Regions from separate parts of the Homo sapiens genome. Here region 1 is linked to region 2. The links come from fine-mapping of genetic effects on gene expression. Tissue or cell type: CD4 T cells. Region 2 holds a variant in brackets; the other region holds the start of a gene. All regions are shown on one strand. Distances are between the middles of the regions.

Region 1 (8,175 bases), 38 kb before region 2:
AGACTTGGGTGCTTTTGAGGTATGGCAATGAGAATGATATGACTTAGGACTGGAGCTTAGAAAGTGAGGAGTGTGTGCCTGTGGTTCCAGCTATTCAGTGGGAGGCTGAGATGGGAGGATCACTTGAGCCTGGGAGGCAGAGGTCACAGTGAGCCAAGATCGTGCCACTGCACTAACCTGGGTAACAGAGTGAGACCCTGTCTCAAAAATAAATAAATAAATAAATAAATAAATAAACGTACAGAAAATAAATTTAAAACCAGGAGCCAAAGGAGTCATCTCTAATGGACTCAGGGTTGTTCATCAAACAAAATGAGAAGCAGAACTGTATTCCAGGCATCATGCTAAATGCTAAGGACACAGAGGTGACTGAGATGCAGGCCACTCTCAGGATAAAATGAGATTGTGTAAGTAGCTACAGCCAGCTCAAAGTTTCTTATTGCCATCCTGAATCATGAAAGACATATATTTGAGCTGAAAAAGCCCTTGATGGCATCACATGGAAACTCCAAAGCCCAAGTTTCATTATGGAGGAGGTGCCTGGGTTGAAGGCCCTGTAGCAGCCCTTCACCCTTTCCTATGGGATCTTCCTGGGGCAGAGGTGCAGCTGCTTTTGGCAAATCGGACCACAAGGATACCTCCTTGGAAGACAAGGCTCTCACTTGTACATGAATAGTTATAATACTGTAAGGCAGTATCTGAGAAAAGTAGGGTCATCTGGACGGTTTCCTAACACTGTGTCCCAGGAAGATCCAGATAATTTGGGGGGACAGGCCAGGCCTGTTCCTATCCCTGTCTTGGCCAGCCATGATTACTGGTGGGAGTCTGGGTATCCCTTGGATGTGTCAGGAGTAGGGAAAAGGGTGAGAACCACAGGATTAGGTTAGCTATACATTGTTTGATCAAGGAAGGGAATTGAGCCATTAAATCTGGCTCTATAAAATAGAATTAGATTTGTTCTGTATGGCCCCACGGTTTAAAACTAGGAGAGATACTGCCTAAGAAAGAACTTTCTAACTGCCAAGACTGGACTTGAAAAAATAACAACTGTCAGCCAGGTGTGGTGGCTCACACCTGTAATCCCAGCACTTTGGGAGGCTGAGGCAGGCAGATCGCCTGAGGTTGGGAGTTCGAGACCAGCATGGCCAGCATGGTGAAACCCCATCTCTACTAAAAATGTAAAAATTAGCCTGGCATGGTGGCAGGCACCTGTAATCCCAGCTACTAGGGAAGCTGAGGCAGGAGAATCACTTGAACCCGGGAGGCGGAGGTTGCAGTGAGCTGAGATCACGCCATTGTACTCCAGCCTAGGCAACAGAGCCAGACTCTGTCTCAAAAAAAAAAATAAATAAAACTGTCTTGAGTGGCAGTGAGTTCCCCAACATGGGACATGTACATGTATACATGGCAGAGATAATGTGGAAGAGATTCAAATACTGGCAGGGTGTTTGTACCAAATGGCCCTTTTGGACACAAGATGGAATCCTTTTTATTGGGTGATGGCAGTAGGTCTCCTTGACTGTTGAAGTCAGGAAGAAAGCTTTCAGGGACTCAGGTGATCTGAGAAAGATGTTAAATTACTTAATTCCTCAATATACTGAATCCCTACTGTGCAGGGCACTGGGTATTGTAGTAGTAGATAGGCAAGATTCCTACCTTAAAGGAAGTAGAGAATAGAGATACAGTTTAAGGAAAGGGAAGGGAGACAGGGTAGGTGTTAATTAAAAACTTCCTGCTGGTGAGGCACCGTGGCTCATGCCTATAATCCCAGCACTTTGGGAGGCCGAGGTGGGTGGATCACCTGAGGTCAGGAGTTTGAGACCAGCCTGGCTAACATGCCAAACCCCATCTCTACTAGAAATACAAAAATTAGCCAGATGTGCTGGGCATGGTGGCTGACGCCTGTAATCCTAGCACTTTGGGAGGCCGAGGTGGGTGGATCACCTAGGTCAGGATTTCCAGACCAGCCCGGCCAACGTGGTGAAACCCCATCTCTACTAAAAATACAAAATTAGCCGAGTGTGGTGGTACATGCCTGTAATCCTAGCTACTTGGGAGGCTGAGGCAGGAGAATCGCTTGAACCCGGGAGGTAGAGGTTGCAGTGAGCCGAGATCATGCCACTGCACTCCAGCCTGGGCAACAAGAGCAAAACTCCATCTCAAAAGCAAAACAAATTAGCTGGATGTGGTGGCGCACACCTCTAGTCCCAGCTACTCGGGAAGCTGTGGCAGGAGAATCGCTTGAACCTGGGAGGCAGAGGCTGCAGTGAGCCAAGATCCTGCCACTGCACCCCAGCCTGGGCAATAGAGCGAAACTCTGTCTCAACAAACAAACAAACAAACCAAACAAAAAAAAAACAAAAACAACTTCCTGCTATATGTGAGGCATAACTAGATAACTAGTTTTTTTTTTTTTTTTTTTTTTTTTTTAACTGGAGACAGAGTCTTGCTGTAGTCTCCCAGGCTGGAGTGCAGTGACCGGATCTTGGGCTCACTGCAACCTCCACCTCCCGGGTTCAAGCAATCCTCCTGCCTCAGCCTCCCGTGTAGCTGGGATTACAGGCATTCACCACCACGCCCGGCTAATTTTGTATTTTTAGTAGAGACGGGATTTTGCCATGTTGGCCAGGCTGGTCTCAAACTCCTGACCTCAGGTGATCCACCCGCCTTGGCCTCCCAAAGTGCTGGGATTACAGGCGTGAGCCACAGCGCCCGGCCTAGATGCTTTATTTTTTTTGAGGCAAGGTCTCGTTTTGTTGCCCAGGCTGGAGTGCAGTGGTACCATCATGGCTCTCTGCAGCCTTGACCTCCTGGGCTCAAGCCATCCTCCTGCCTCAGCCTCCCGAGTAAATGAGACCACACTGTCACCATGCCTGGCTAGTTTGTTTTTTGTTTTTTTTTTTTGTAGAGATCGGGGGTTAGTCTCACTCTTGTTTAGGCTGGTCTCGAACTCCTGGGCTCAAGTGATCCTCCCAAAGTGCTGAGATTACAGGTGTGAGCCACCGTGCCCGGCTTTTATGTATTCTTTCAACAACGCTGCACGGCTGCGATTATCCCCACTTTGAGAGGAGACAGGATGAGAGGCTGAGTGGCTTGCTAGGCTTGTATGGACAGGATGCGGGCTCTGCAATCACATGACTTTGTATGAGAGGGCAAATGGATTAACCGCTAAACATAGTTTCCTGTTGTGTAAAATGGGGATGATGATAGTATCCACCCTGCGGACTGTGCGGGCTGAGATAATCCCACAAAGTGCTCTTAGGACCTGGCAGGTGGAAAGTGCTCATGATCACCTCTGCCAAGGCTGCACAAGTAGCGAGTGGCCGAGCTTTATATCCGAAGTTAGGACCCTGCAGTTTTGCCCCTCTCCTCTCTCTCCCTCTCCTTCCCGGCTCCGGGGAAAGGAAAATTTATGGCTCCGGGTCGGGGGTTGCGGGGGACCTCTGTGCCGTGCTCCGGGGCCGAGCTCTCCCCGCCGGCCTCTCCCGCGTCCGTCCGGCCGCCCTCCCGCCCAACCTCTCCCGCCCAACCTCTCCCGCGTCCGCCCGCCCGCCCAACCTCTCCCGCGTCCGCCCGCCCGCCCAACCTCTCCCGCGTCCGCCCGCCCGCCCAACCTCTCCCGCGTCCGCCCGCCCGCCCAACCTCTCCCGCGTCCGCCCGCCCGCCCAACCTCTCCCGCGTCCGCCCGCCCGCCCAACCTCTCCCGCGTCCGCCCGCCCGCCCAACCTCTCCCGGCCCCGCCCGCCCGCCCGCCCAACCTCTCCCGGCCCCGCCCGCCCGCCCGCCCAACCTCTCCCGGCCCCGCCCGCCCGCCCGCCCAACCTCTCCCGGCCCCGCCCGCCCGCCCGCCCAACCTCTCCCGGCCCCGCCCGCCCACCCAACCTCTCCCGGCCCCGCCCGTCCAACCTCTCCCGGCCCCGCCTGCTGGCCGGACGTCCGGTCTGCAGGCGCGCGCTCCCGAGGTCCCGCCTCGCCCGCTGAGCCGGCCTGTAAGCGCTGCGGAGATTGGGCTAGAGGCGGAGGCCTGGGCCACGGCGGAGGCGCTGGGTACGTAGCGCGCCACGCGGGCCGGTGAGAGCCAGCCGGGCGCCGGGGAGGGGGCGGGCCCTGGCCGCGGCTGCTACGCGGGGCTGCCACCGCCCCGGGCGACCCAATTTCGCGGCCTAGTGGGGCGTACGGGCCTCTTTTGAAAGCCTGAGTTACGATGTATTGAGCGCGTCGTATGCGGCCAGCACTAAGGCAAGTGCTTTTATATCCACGGCCCATTGTCTTGACAGCAACCCTACCAAGCAACGTGTTATTTCCTCTGTTTTACGGCTGAGGACGCGCAGGAAGGTTTACAGCTAGAAAGGGCTGGAGATTGTGGATTCAAACTCAGGATCAGACCAAAGCCACTGCCCTTTAGAACTTTGCGGGCCGATTGATTCTTGAATCTAGCTTCTGCCACTTCAGTTGTGTGACCTTGGGGTATCTTTCCGATCCCAAGTTTGCTCATCTGAAAAATGGGAATAAAGCTACAGTATCTGTCCCATAGGGTGGGTATAAAGTGCTTTACTGTTGAGCTGAGTGATCATCTCCGATTTTCAGACCCCTCTCCTCCGCTTCCCTCTCCCCTGGGAGGCCAGTTAAGGTTTTAGTGAAGGCCCCCGGGACTGGGGCGGCGTGGATCTCACGCCCACCAACTAGTGAGGGAGGCCATCCGGCCACCCGTCTCTTCCTTCCCCAGCTCCGCAAAGGAGGCGTTGGCATTTCAGGTGTTTGCTTACAGAGTTTTCAAAGATTTTTCACTCTCCCTTAGTTGTGGGAAAATGATTCAACCTACCCAAGTGAACTTTGACATTAAGTCTCAATTCTAACGGTGAGGAAATGGAAGCCTTTGAATATGTTTTATGTCTTAAACGTGTTTGTTTTTGCAGGAGGGAGAGTGCTCATTTTACCTGAATAAATCAAGATTGAGTTGGTGTGGCACAGTGCTGGCATAGGCCTGGGGAAAGGGGTGAAATGCTAGAGATCTGGTAGATGGATAGAAAGTGGACAGACGGGTTCGGGTGGTTTTTGTCTCAGCAGGGCCCTAAATTCCCACCAAATCCTCCTCTGTCTGTCTTCACCAAGGTCTGAATCTGTCCCCTTGGTAAATAACGTTTAAATGGTCTCCGAGCCCCTCTTGGTGCCTGTACCTTAAGGAGAGAAGAAGAGGGCTGATAGCTGAAGGCAGGCAAGCCACGAACTTAGCTTTGTTTTGAAAATTACCCTCTGGGCCGGGCACGGTGGCTCACGCCTGTAATCCCAGCGCTTTGGTAGGTTGAGGAGGGTGGATCACCCGAGGTTAGGAGTTCGAGACCAGCCTGGTCAACATGGTGAAACCCCCGTGTCAACTAAAAATGCAAAAAAATTAGCCGGACATGGTGGTGCATGCCTGTAGTCCCAGCTACTCGGGAGGCTGAGGCAGAAAAATCGCTTGAACCCGGGAGGCTGAGGTTGCAGTGAGCCGAGATCGTGCCACTGCACTCCAGCCTGGGCAAGAGAGTGAGACTCCTTCTCAAAAGAAAGAAAGAAAGAAAAAATTACCTGCTGGGAGGCCGAGCGCGGTGGCTCACGCCTGGTAATCCCAGTATTTTGGGAGGCTGAGGCAGGCAGATCACCTGAGGTCAGGAGTTTGAGACCAGCCTGGCCAACATGGTGAAACTCCATCTCTACTAAAAATACAAAAAAATTAGCTGGGTGTGGTGGCGGGTGCCTGCAATCCCAGCTACTCAGGAGGTCGAGGTAGGAGAATCACTTGAACTCAGGAAGCAGAGGTTGCAGTGAGCTGAGATCGTGCCACTGCACTCCAGCCTGGGTGACAAGAGCAAGACTCTGTTTCAAAAAAAAAAAAAAAAAAAAAAAGGAAAAGAAAAAGAAAATTACCTGCTGGCACAGTTTTAGATTGATAGCTTTAGATTGAAACTTTCACATTTTTATTTTGAAGATTACAGAGGATAAAAGTTCTGGTTAATTGTGAATGTTGATATTTTAAAATAAAGCTGTTAAAATCCTCATTTAAACCTGCAGTGAAGTCTAAATATACACCATTTGATTTGATTTCCCTCATCTTTTGAAAAAAAAAAAAAGAACCACTTTTTATTTAACCATCGAAATTTCAAATCGTTCTTTTTTTCCTTTATTTTTTCCGAGATGGGATCTTGCTCTGTTGCTCAAGCTGGAGTGCAGTGGCAGTCACTGGTTACTGCACCCTTGACCTGCTGAGCTCAATCCTCCCACCTTAGCCACCAAAGTAACTAAGAGTACGGGTGTCTGTCACCACATATGGCTGATTTTTCTTTTTATTTTTAGTAGAGACGAGGTCTTGCTATGTTGCCCCGGCTGACTCCTGGTCTCAAGTGATCCTTGCATCTCAGCCTCCAAAAGTGCTGGGATTAGAGGTGTAAGCCACCATGCTTGGCCCTTTTTCCTTCTTGAACTCATATTTCCACTTTGTTTCCTCACAGAAGTTTTTTCTAATGTAATAGTTTTTGTTTTTTTGAGACAGGGTCTCTGTCACCCAGGCTGTAGTGCAGTGGCGGGATCACAGCTCACTGCAGCCTTGACCTCTTGGGCTCAAGCAATACTCCCACCTTAGCTTCCCCAGTAGCTGGGACTGCAGGCTTTCGCCACCATGCTCAGCCAATTTTTTTTTTCCAAATGAAAGCAAGATTATTAGGAAAATAATGGAATAAAGAATGGCTACACCATAGGCAGAACAGCCCTTGTGCTGCTGGTTGGCTATTTTTATGGTTCTTTCTTTCTTTTTGAGACAGAGTCTGTCTCACTCTGTCACCCAGGCTGGAGTGCAGTGGCGCAGTCTTGGCTCACTGCAGCCTCTACCTCCTAGGTTCAAATGCTTCTCAAGCCTCAGCCTCCTGAGTAGCTGGGATTACAGGTGCATGCCACCACGCCTGGCTAATTTTTGTTTTGTTTTTCTTTGAGATGGAGTCTCGCTCTGTCACCCAGGCTGGAGTGCAGTGGCACGATCTCGGCTTACTGCAACGTCTGCCTCCCGGTTTCAAGCGATTCTTCTGCCTCAGCCTCCTGAGTAGCTGGGACTATGGGCATGTACCACCATGCCTGGCTATTTTTGTATTTTTAGTAGAGACGGGGTTTCACCATATTGGCCAGGCAGGTCTCAAACTCCTGACCTCGTGATCCGCCCTCGGCCTCCCAAAGTGCTGGGATTACAGGCATGAGCCAACATGCCTGGCCTAATTTTTGTATTATTAGTAGAGATGGGCTTTTGCCATATTGGCCAGGCAGGCTGGTCTCAAACTCCTGGCCTCAAGTGATCTGCCTCCCAGAGTGCTGGGATTCCAGCTAATTTTTTTTTTTTTCCATTTTTTTGTAGAGACAGAGTCTCACTATGTTGCCCAGGCTGGTCTTGAACTCCTGGCCTCAAGTGATCCTCCTGCCTTGACTTCCCAAAGTGCTGGGATTATATGCATGAGATACTGTGCCTGACCATGTAATAATACATTTTATGCCTGAAAGCCTTTGGTTTATCATATTTCTCTGCAACAAAAATACATACAAAATTAAAACTTTTTTAAAATTGTGTTATCATGAGTATTAAATGTTTCTTTTGGATTGAGTTGTCACAATTATAAAATACACAATTGATAAAAACAATGTTAACAAAGTTTTATTTGAGTATTTCTCTTAATAAGCTAAGTGGGCCGGGTGTGGTGGCTTATGCTTGTAGTCTCAACATTTTGGGAGGCCAAAGCAGGCAGATTACTTGAGCTCAGGTGTTTGAGACTAGCCAGGGGCCAGACGCGGTGGCTCACGCCTGTAAACCCAGCACTTTGGGAGGCCAAGGTGGGCGGATCACAAGGTCACAAGTTCAAGACCAGCCTGACCAACATGCCGAAACCCCGTCTGTACTAAAGATACAAAAATTAGCTGGGTGTGGTGGCGTGTGCCTGTAATCCCAGCTACTGGGGAGGCTGAGGCAGGAGAATCATTTGAACCGGGAGCCGGAGGTTGCAGTGAGCCAAGATCGCGCCACTGCATTCCAGCCTGGGCAACAGGGTGAGACTCCATCTCAAAAAAAAAAAAAAAAAAAGAGACTAGCCAGGGCAACCCAGCAAAACCTCATCTCTACAAAAAATTTTTAAAAATTAGCCGGGCGTGTTGGTGCATGCC
Region 2 (8,175 bases):
GCTGGGACTACAGGTGTGCGCCACCACGCCCGGCTAATTTTTTGTATTTTAGTAGAAACGGGGTTTCACCATGTTGGCCAAGATAGTCTTGATCTCCTGACCTCGTGATCTGCCCGCCTTGACCTCCCAAAATGCTGGGATTACAGGTGTGAGCCACTGTGCCCGGCCTTTTATTATTTTTTTAATTTTTTTAGAGACAGGGTTTCACTCTAGCCCAAATGAGAGTGCAGCAGAGCCATCATAGCTCACTGTAACCTTGAACTTCTAGGCCCAGGTGACTCTCCCGAATAGCTAGGATTACAGATGTGCACCACCATGCGTGGCTAATTTTTTTCTTTTTTTTTTTTTTTTAGAGACAGGGTCTTACCATGTTGCCCAGGCTGGTTTCAAACTCCTGGCCTCAAGTGATGCTCCCGCCTCGACCTCCCAAAATGCTGGGATTGCAGGCATGAGTCACCACACCCAGCCTGGGGTGACCTCTAGAGGCTGCTGAATCCATTGCCCTGCCTTCTACACTCACTCTTACCCACTCCACCCCTACCTGCAATAGGATTATCTCTGCTGGCGAAACAACCAGCCTCTTTGGAGATGGCAGCCCACCATTTGTCAAGCCAGGAAGACCTTCTGACAGTCTACCTTAAATCTCTCTTTGGTACCCTCAGGGAAAATTGAAACAACGAACAGCAAAAAGATAAATGCATATGGATAGGCAATGCCACACTATTTTTTTAAAATACCCGCAAAGAGGGTGGGAGAGCGGGAATTACCTTCAGACACAATGCTCTTTACACTAAACATCTTGGCGAAAAATATGGCTGTGTAATTCTTTTTTCTCCTTGGCAAAGAGAAAGGCTGAGGCTGGGCAGAAAGGCAGAGGGACCCGAAAATATAAATCAATATGTGACTTTAATATATGTGCTTTCGGTGTCTGTGTGTGCTGGGGGATTATTAGTAACCTTGATTCCAGCTCAGTGTCCATGCGAGGCAGGGAGATGTGCGGCCCCCAGGGAGGAGAAGAGAAATTAGGAAGCCAAATTCTTCTCCTGATTGACACCTGGGTAAACATTATCCTGGCAGAAAGGGAAGAAAAAAAGATCAATGCTGGGTATTTTTATCACGTTCCAGGGACAGACGGGGGGGAAATTAAAGAAACAGTCCCCTAGAATCACTGAATATGCCCATCTTCAAGGAGTAGCTAGATAAGGCGGAACCCAGGTGGAGGAGTATGGGTGGGAGAGAAATGGGCATGTCCCAGGGAGCAGTGGCCATTGCTTCTTCTACCCTGATGTATGTGAGTGGCAGCAGGTACAAAGGAGCCATGGCTTTAGTTGCAGGGTGAAGGCAGCAGCTTTGACGGGGAATCGTAGGCCAGAGTCTAACTCAAATCAGACTTCGGCTTCAACAGAGGCCCAAGAGGCATTTGTCTTAATGGGATTTGTCAGGGGGCTGTTTCTAGTGGAAGATTCCTGGAGTGTGGGAAGGGGGCAGTGGCTGCAGGAGGGGCTGGGTGTAGTGAGTGATCCAGTGTGGGTCAATGCCCATGGGGAAGCAGGGACATCTCTCTGGATTGTCTCAGATCTAGAGTCAGGAAAACCTGGGCCTCCACCCCTTCCTGGCTATATGACCTTGACCAAGTCATCTGACCTCATAGAGTCTCACCTTCCCTGTCTGTAAAATAGAGGCAGGTGGCCCCTACCCCACTGGTCTCAGAGTTTTTAAAAGAGATTATACAAAACACTGGACAGGGCTGAGGGGCTATTGTTATCTGGGGAGCCCTGCCCACTAGAAATATACTGTAAGCCACATATACACTTAAAAAAATTTTTTTAAACTAATTTGTTTAAGAGACAAGGTCTCCGTCTGTGGCCCAGGCTGCAGTGCAGCGGCACAATCATAGCTTATTACAGCCTCAACCTCCTGGGCTCGAACAATCCTCTCACCTTAGCCTCCTGAGCACCTGGCTAGTTTTGGGGGATTTTTTGCTTGTTTATTTGTTTGTATTTTTTGTAGAGATGGGGCTCTCACTATGTTGCCCGGACTGGTTTCAAATTCCTGGCCTCAAGTGATCCTCCCACCTCAGTCTCCCAAAGTGTTGAGATTACAGGAATGAGCCCCTGCACCCAGCCCATATATGTACTGTTAAATGTTCTGTTGTTGTTGTTGTTGTTGTTGTTGTTGTTGTTGACGACGGAGTTTCGCTCTTGTTGCCCAGGCTGGAGTGCAATGGCGCAATCTCCACTCACCGCACCTCTGCCTCCTGGGTTCAAGTAATTCTCCTTCCTCAACCTCCCGAGTAGCTGGGATTACAGGCATACGCCACCATGCCCGGCTAATTTTGTATTTTTCATAGAGATGGGGTTTCTCCATATTGGTCAGGCTGGTCTCGAACTCCCAACCTCAGGTGATCCACCCACCTTGGCCTCCCAAAATGCTGGGATTACAGGCATGAGCCACCATGCCAGGCCAATGTACTGTTTTTGGTTTTTTTTTTTGAGACGGAGTCTCGCTCTGTCGCCAGGCTGGAGTGCAGTGGTGTGATCTCGGCTCACTGCAACCTCTGCCTCCTGGGTTCAAGCAATTCTCCTGCCTCAGCCTTCTGAGTAGCTGGGACTACAGGCGAGCACTGCCACGCCCTGCTTATTTTTGTACTTTTAGTAGAGACGGGGTTTCACCATGTTGGCCAGAATGGTCTCCATCTCTTGACCTCATGATCCGCCTGCCTCGGCCTCCCAAAGTGCTGGGATTACAGGCGTGAAGCACCGCACCCGGCCAATGTACTGTTAAATGTTCTAATAGTCACATTTAAAAAAGTAAAAACAGGCCAGGCACGGTGTTCACGCCTGTAATCCCAACACTTTGGGAGGCTGAGGCAGGAGGATCAGTTCAAGACCAGCCTGGGCAACATAGGGATATGTCACGTCTACAAAAAAAGTAGCCAGGAGTGGTGGCGCATACCGTAGTCTCAGCTACATGAGAGGCTGAGCTGAGAGGATCACTTGAGCCTAGGAGGTCGAAGCTGCAGTGAGCTGTGATTGCACTGCTGCACTCTAGGCAACAGAGTGAGACCCTGTCTAAAAAAAAAAAAAAAAAATGTGAAAAGAAACACTTCAAATTAATTCAAATTAAATATGTATTATATTATATATAATATATATAGTATATATTATATATATTATATATTATATATAGTATATAATATATATA[A/TAA]TATTATATATATTATATATATATATTATATATATTTTTTGAGACAGTTTCATTCTTGTTGTCCAGGCTGGAGTGCAATGGTGCAGTTTCGGCTCACTGGAACCTCCACCTCCCAGGTTCAAGTGATTCTCCTTCCTCAGCTTCCCGAGTAGCTGGGATTACAGGCATGCACCACCACGCCTGGCTAATTTTCTATTTTTAGTAGAGATGGGGTTTCTTCATGTTGGTCAGGCTGGTCTCAAACTCCTGACCTCAGGTGATCTGCCCACCTCGGCCTCCCAAAATGCTGAGATTACAGGTGTGAGCCACTGCGCCCGGCCTCAAATAATATTTTTTAACTTAACCCAATATATCTAAAATATCATTTCAGCATGTGGCACTAGCCACATTCCAGGTGCCCTGAAGCCACATGTGGCAGGAGCTACCGCACCGGGCCAGCAGAGATCTGGAATGAGAAGCCCACAGGATAGGAGCTTCTGCCCCGACCCCTGCCCCCTCCCTGTGATAGTGAGGAGGGACCTCTGGAGGCAGAAGGTGAAGTGAGCCCCTGAGAAATACAGGGCAGAGCCCCCCTTTTGCTGGGGGTGGGAGCAACTTTCTGGCCTCTGAGGCATTACAGTGCCCCAGCAGGGGCTCTCTGGGGGAGGCAGACTAATGACCACTTCGCCAGGATAGGGGCCGGGCTGGGGCAGACACTGAGCTCTCCTTTCCAGAGTCTCCTGGCAACTAGAGCAGCTGGTTTGGAGGGAAGAGCCTGACAGCTGGGCTTGGGTACTTCTCATTCCCAGTCAGTGCCTAGTCTTCTGGCTGTAGCATCTAAGGTAAGGCCCCTCTTGGAACTGCACCATCACTCAAATGGGAATAGCTGTGATCAACCCTGCTTTAAAGGCTGTAAAAAGGTTTCTTATACAAAGACAGTATGCTTGTAAGCCATGAACGTGCGCGAGGAAAAGAGAAAGTGAGGAGGGAGGGAGGGAGCCCCTTTTGAGGCCGCCCCTCCCTTGGTTGGCTATTGCTGGCTGTACTCCCAGAGTCTGCAGGGGCCCTCCAACTTCAGTGGGAGGCTGGAGAAAGAGGGTAGGATGGGCGGCCCAGAAAGGGTGTGATTTTCTGAGAGCCACACAGCACATCCAGCAGTGGGTGAGCTGGACACGCTGGGGTGGGGCCAGGATACCCAGGACCTCCTTCTCAGCTGCTCTAGGCGCGAGGGTTTGTGGGAAGGAGTGGACAGGGCTATTTCAGGGCAATGCAAAGGCAGCCGAGTGCTGGCTGGGAGGCCCTCGTGGGTCTAGTCTGACATTTTCTGCTGATGCTGGGAGCCAGGGAAGGGGACCTGGAAACCTGAATCTCACACCTGGGCCAGCTGATCTTGTGCCCAAGTGGTCCCAGCCCCTACTTCCCACTGGTCTTCCCTGTCCTAGCTGCACAATTGCCCTGCCTGGGGAGGAGTGTGGAGAGAAGCACCAGGCTACCCCAGGACCAAGCCCCCAGCCCACCTGCCAGGTCCCGAGAGCCACAGTGAGCCCTCAGTTATATCTTTGTTTTTGTTTTTGTTTTTGAGTTTCACTCTTTCCAGGCTGGAGTGAAGTGGCGCAATCTTGGCTCACTGCAACCTCCGCCCCCAGAATTCAACGATTCTCCTGCCTCAGCCTCCGGAGAAGCTGGATTATAGTCAAACCACCATACCCGCTAATTTTTGTATTTTTAGTAGAGACGGGGTTTTGCCATGTTGGCCAGGCTGGTCTTGAACTCCTGACCTCAGGTGATCAACCTGCCTCAGCCTCCCAAAGTGCTAGGATTACACTTTGAGGTGCCCAGCCCCTCAGTTATTTCTTTTGCAGACTGCAACTAAGGGATAGATCTGGGATTTAACTTTATTTATTTATTTATTTATTTATTTATTTATTTATTTATTTTTAGACAGGATCTCCCTCAGTCACCCAGGCTGGAGTGCAGTGGCACAAACATGGCTCATGGCAGCCTCAACATCCTGGGCTCAAGAGATCCTTCCACCTCAGCCTCCCAAGTAGCTGGGACCCTAGGCACGCAACACCACATCTAGCTAATTTTTTGTATTTTTGGTAGAGACCAGATTTTGCCACGTTACCCAGGCTGGTCTCAAACTCCTGGGCTCAAATGATCTGCCTGCATCAGCCTCCCAAAGTGCTGGGATTATAGGTGTGAGCCACCTGGCCCAGCCTCTTCTTTTACTTATTTATGTATTTATTTTTACACAGGGTCTTGCTCTGTCACCCAGGATGGAGTACAGTGGCATGGTCATAGCTCACTGCAGTCTACAACTGCTGGACTCAAGTGATCCTCCCTCCTCAGCCTTGCAAGTAACTAGGACTACAGGTGCATGCACCTGTAGTGCATTAGCACAGCGAGCTAATTTTTTTTCTTTTTTTGTGCAGATGGGGCTTCTCAATGTTGCCCAGGCTGACCTTGGACTCCTGGCCTCAAGTAATTCTCCCACCTCTGCCTCCCAAAGTGTTGTGATGACAGGTGTGAGCCACTGCACTTGGCCTTTCTTTTTTTTTGAAACGGAGTTTTGCTCTTGTTGCCCAGGCTAGAGTGCAATGGCACAATCTCGGCTCACTGCAACCTCCCCCCTCCCAGGTTCAAGCGATCCTCCTGCCTCAGCCTCCTGAGTAGCTGGGATTACAGGCATGCACCACCATGCTTGCCTACTTTTGTATTTTTTAGTAGAGACAGGGTTTCTCCATGTTGGTCAGGCTGGTCTCGAACTCCCAACCTCAAGTGATCCGCCCGCCTTGGCCTCCCAAAATGCTGGGATTACAGGCATGAGCCACCGCGCCCGGCCTTTCTTTCTTTCTTCTTCTTCTTCTTCTTTTTTTTTTTTTTTTTTTTTGAGATAGAGTCTTACTCTGTTGCCCAGGCCAGAGTGCAGTGGCATAATCTTGGCTCACCACAACCTCCACCTCCCAGGTTCAAGCGATTCTCCTGCCTCGGCCTCCCGGGTAGCTGGGACTACAGGCATGTGCCACCATGCCCAGCTAATTTTTGTATTTTTAGTAGAGACAGGGTTTCGCTATGTTGGCCAGGCTGGTCTTGAACTCCTGACCTCGTGATCTGCCTGCCTCAGCCTCCCAAAGTGCTGGGATGACAGGTGTGAGTCACCACACCTGCCATTTCTTTCTTCTTGTTTCAGGTTTCTTCCTTCTTGGTTCCATCCTACAAAGAACTGTTTCCATAGACATCCTCTCTGTACAGCTACTTTCAGCCTATTCTTCCCAGTTAGAGACTTACAGTGATTCCTAGTGTCTACCAAATTCCCTTTCAAACTCCTTGGTTTGGGATTCCAAGAGCCCTTCACCATCAAGCTCTTTCCACCTGACACAAACAGTAACCTTGTTTCCGGCCCAACTTGCTGTGCCAACTGGCCCTGCCTAAGGCTGTCCAGCCTCTCTGCCTTTGCCTGGGCCGCTTCTCCTCCTGCAACATCCTTCTTCCTCTCCACACCCAATTCTGCTGATTGAAATCCATCCATTCTGAAAGACCTGGCTCAAATGCCACCTCTTCTGGGAGGAATCCTTACCAGGTAGCCTCATCAGAAATGCTTGCCCTCCTCTGATCCATCTCCCGTAGCCCCTTGCATGTCCCAGGCCCTGGATCTTTCTCTCTCACAGCCTCAGACTCCCGGTAAGCCTCTGGAAATGGAAGCCCCTGGAGGGCAGAGCTATCCCAGCTGTCCATGAGTCCTCTCGGAACCCATTTCCCACCATTGCACTTCCTGCCCTGCTCGCTCCCCACCCCAAGGTAACACCAAGGTCGGATGTGAGAAAAAAATAGATGAAACAAGATTTTGCACATCACATTGTAAAACCCGCTCAGGCGCTCCCCTCCTCCCAATATTCTTACTGGACTCCCGCCTACCCTTGGCTCTGGTCCCTCTGGCTCCTCCCCATCCACCCAGTCCAGATGTCCAAGCCTGAGCAGCTCACCTGGAGAGACACCGTGTCTCTGTCTCCATCTCTTAGTCTGGGTCTCTGTCTGTGCTGCCAGTAGACCTCTGGCCTCCCCCATCAGACTGGGATCACTGGGAATGTGAGGACCTACCTTTTTTTGTCTTTGTCTCCTTTTCCCATCCCATTCAGTGGAGGATTTCAAAAAGCTTTGGAGACACACTTAACAAGATAAAAAATGAGAGAGGAAGCTGGAGGTGGGAGAGGTCCTGCTTCCTCCTCCCCCAGCCTCGGTCTCTGGCACCTTGCCAAGGTCACCTTTCAGAGCAACCTATCACGGGCCTTTGTCAGGATCATTCATCCTCCTTTCCAGCGCCCTCCGCCCTTGCCAACCCACCAGACTCTGTTGCCACTCCAGGCCCTGCCGCCACTCCAGGCCCTGCCAGCCCCAGCTCGCCTTACCAGTCCCTCACGCTCCAACTCTCTCCCTCTCCCCCCCATCTGCAACCACAGCACATCACAGCTGTCTGATTAGCTCAATTGATTAATTAAGCTCTAATGAGAGCCGTGACTCACCCCTACAGCTGCTGACCAGGAGGCCAGCCGTGCCCAGAAGGCCACTGAGGCTGCAGACATGGTCTTATGAGGGCCCAGGGGCAGGCAGCTCAGTGGTTGGTACCACTGAGCCATTTGCAGGGCACAAAGCTTGCCCATGGCTAGGTCTCTCCAAAAGCCTCCATGGTGAGGGGTGGGCAGAGGGGTTGCTCCCTCAACCAATCAGTGAGTTCCAGGATCTGGCACCAACTCTGCTGAAGTCAGGGAGGGCAGAGCAGACATTGATTGGCTGAGAGGTGCAGGGAGGGGAGTAGATCCCTTCAGAGTCCCACCTTGACTCCTGGGGCTTAGCATGCCCCAGGCCCAGAGGATAGTGAGCGTGGGGAAGCTGGGCACTGGCCAGAGGAACCAGACTTAGCCCTGCCAGCAGCCACCAACCCTGTGGTTTCTTTGCTCTGTCGCCCAGGCTGGAGTGCAATGCTGCGATCTT

Which allele goes with the higher level. Positions count from the first base shown, and alleles are read on the strand shown. Sizes are in standard deviations (SD) of each study's normalised expression.
In carriers of allele TAA in region 2, the expression in CD4 T cells of the gene that starts at base 3,968 in region 1 tends to be lower than with A alone (moderate effect, 0.61 SD a copy in CEDAR).

Evidence for each region. PIP is the estimated chance that this variant, and not a neighbour inherited with it, causes the effect.
Region 1: DCAKD starts here. The variant in region 2 is fine-mapped to the expression of DCAKD in CD4 T cells (CEDAR, PIP 0.95).

What each region holds. Positions count from the first base shown.
Region 1 is chr17:45,047,425-45,055,599 of GRCh38, reverse strand. It overlaps DCAKD (dephospho-CoA kinase domain containing), which reads left to right and starts at 3,968. Exons shown (of 5, transcript NM_001288655.2): 1 at 3,968-4,239. RefSeq lists a silencer at 3,828-4,327 and enhancers at 7,413-7,943, 7,944-8,175.
Region 2 is chr17:45,009,337-45,017,511 of GRCh38, reverse strand. LOC107987243 (a long non-coding RNA gene) reads left to right here and starts at 3,511. Exons shown (of 6, transcript XR_007065771.1): 1 at 3,511-4,025. RefSeq lists an enhancer at 4,102-4,888. The variant A/TAA (reference allele first, on the strand shown) is at 3,205.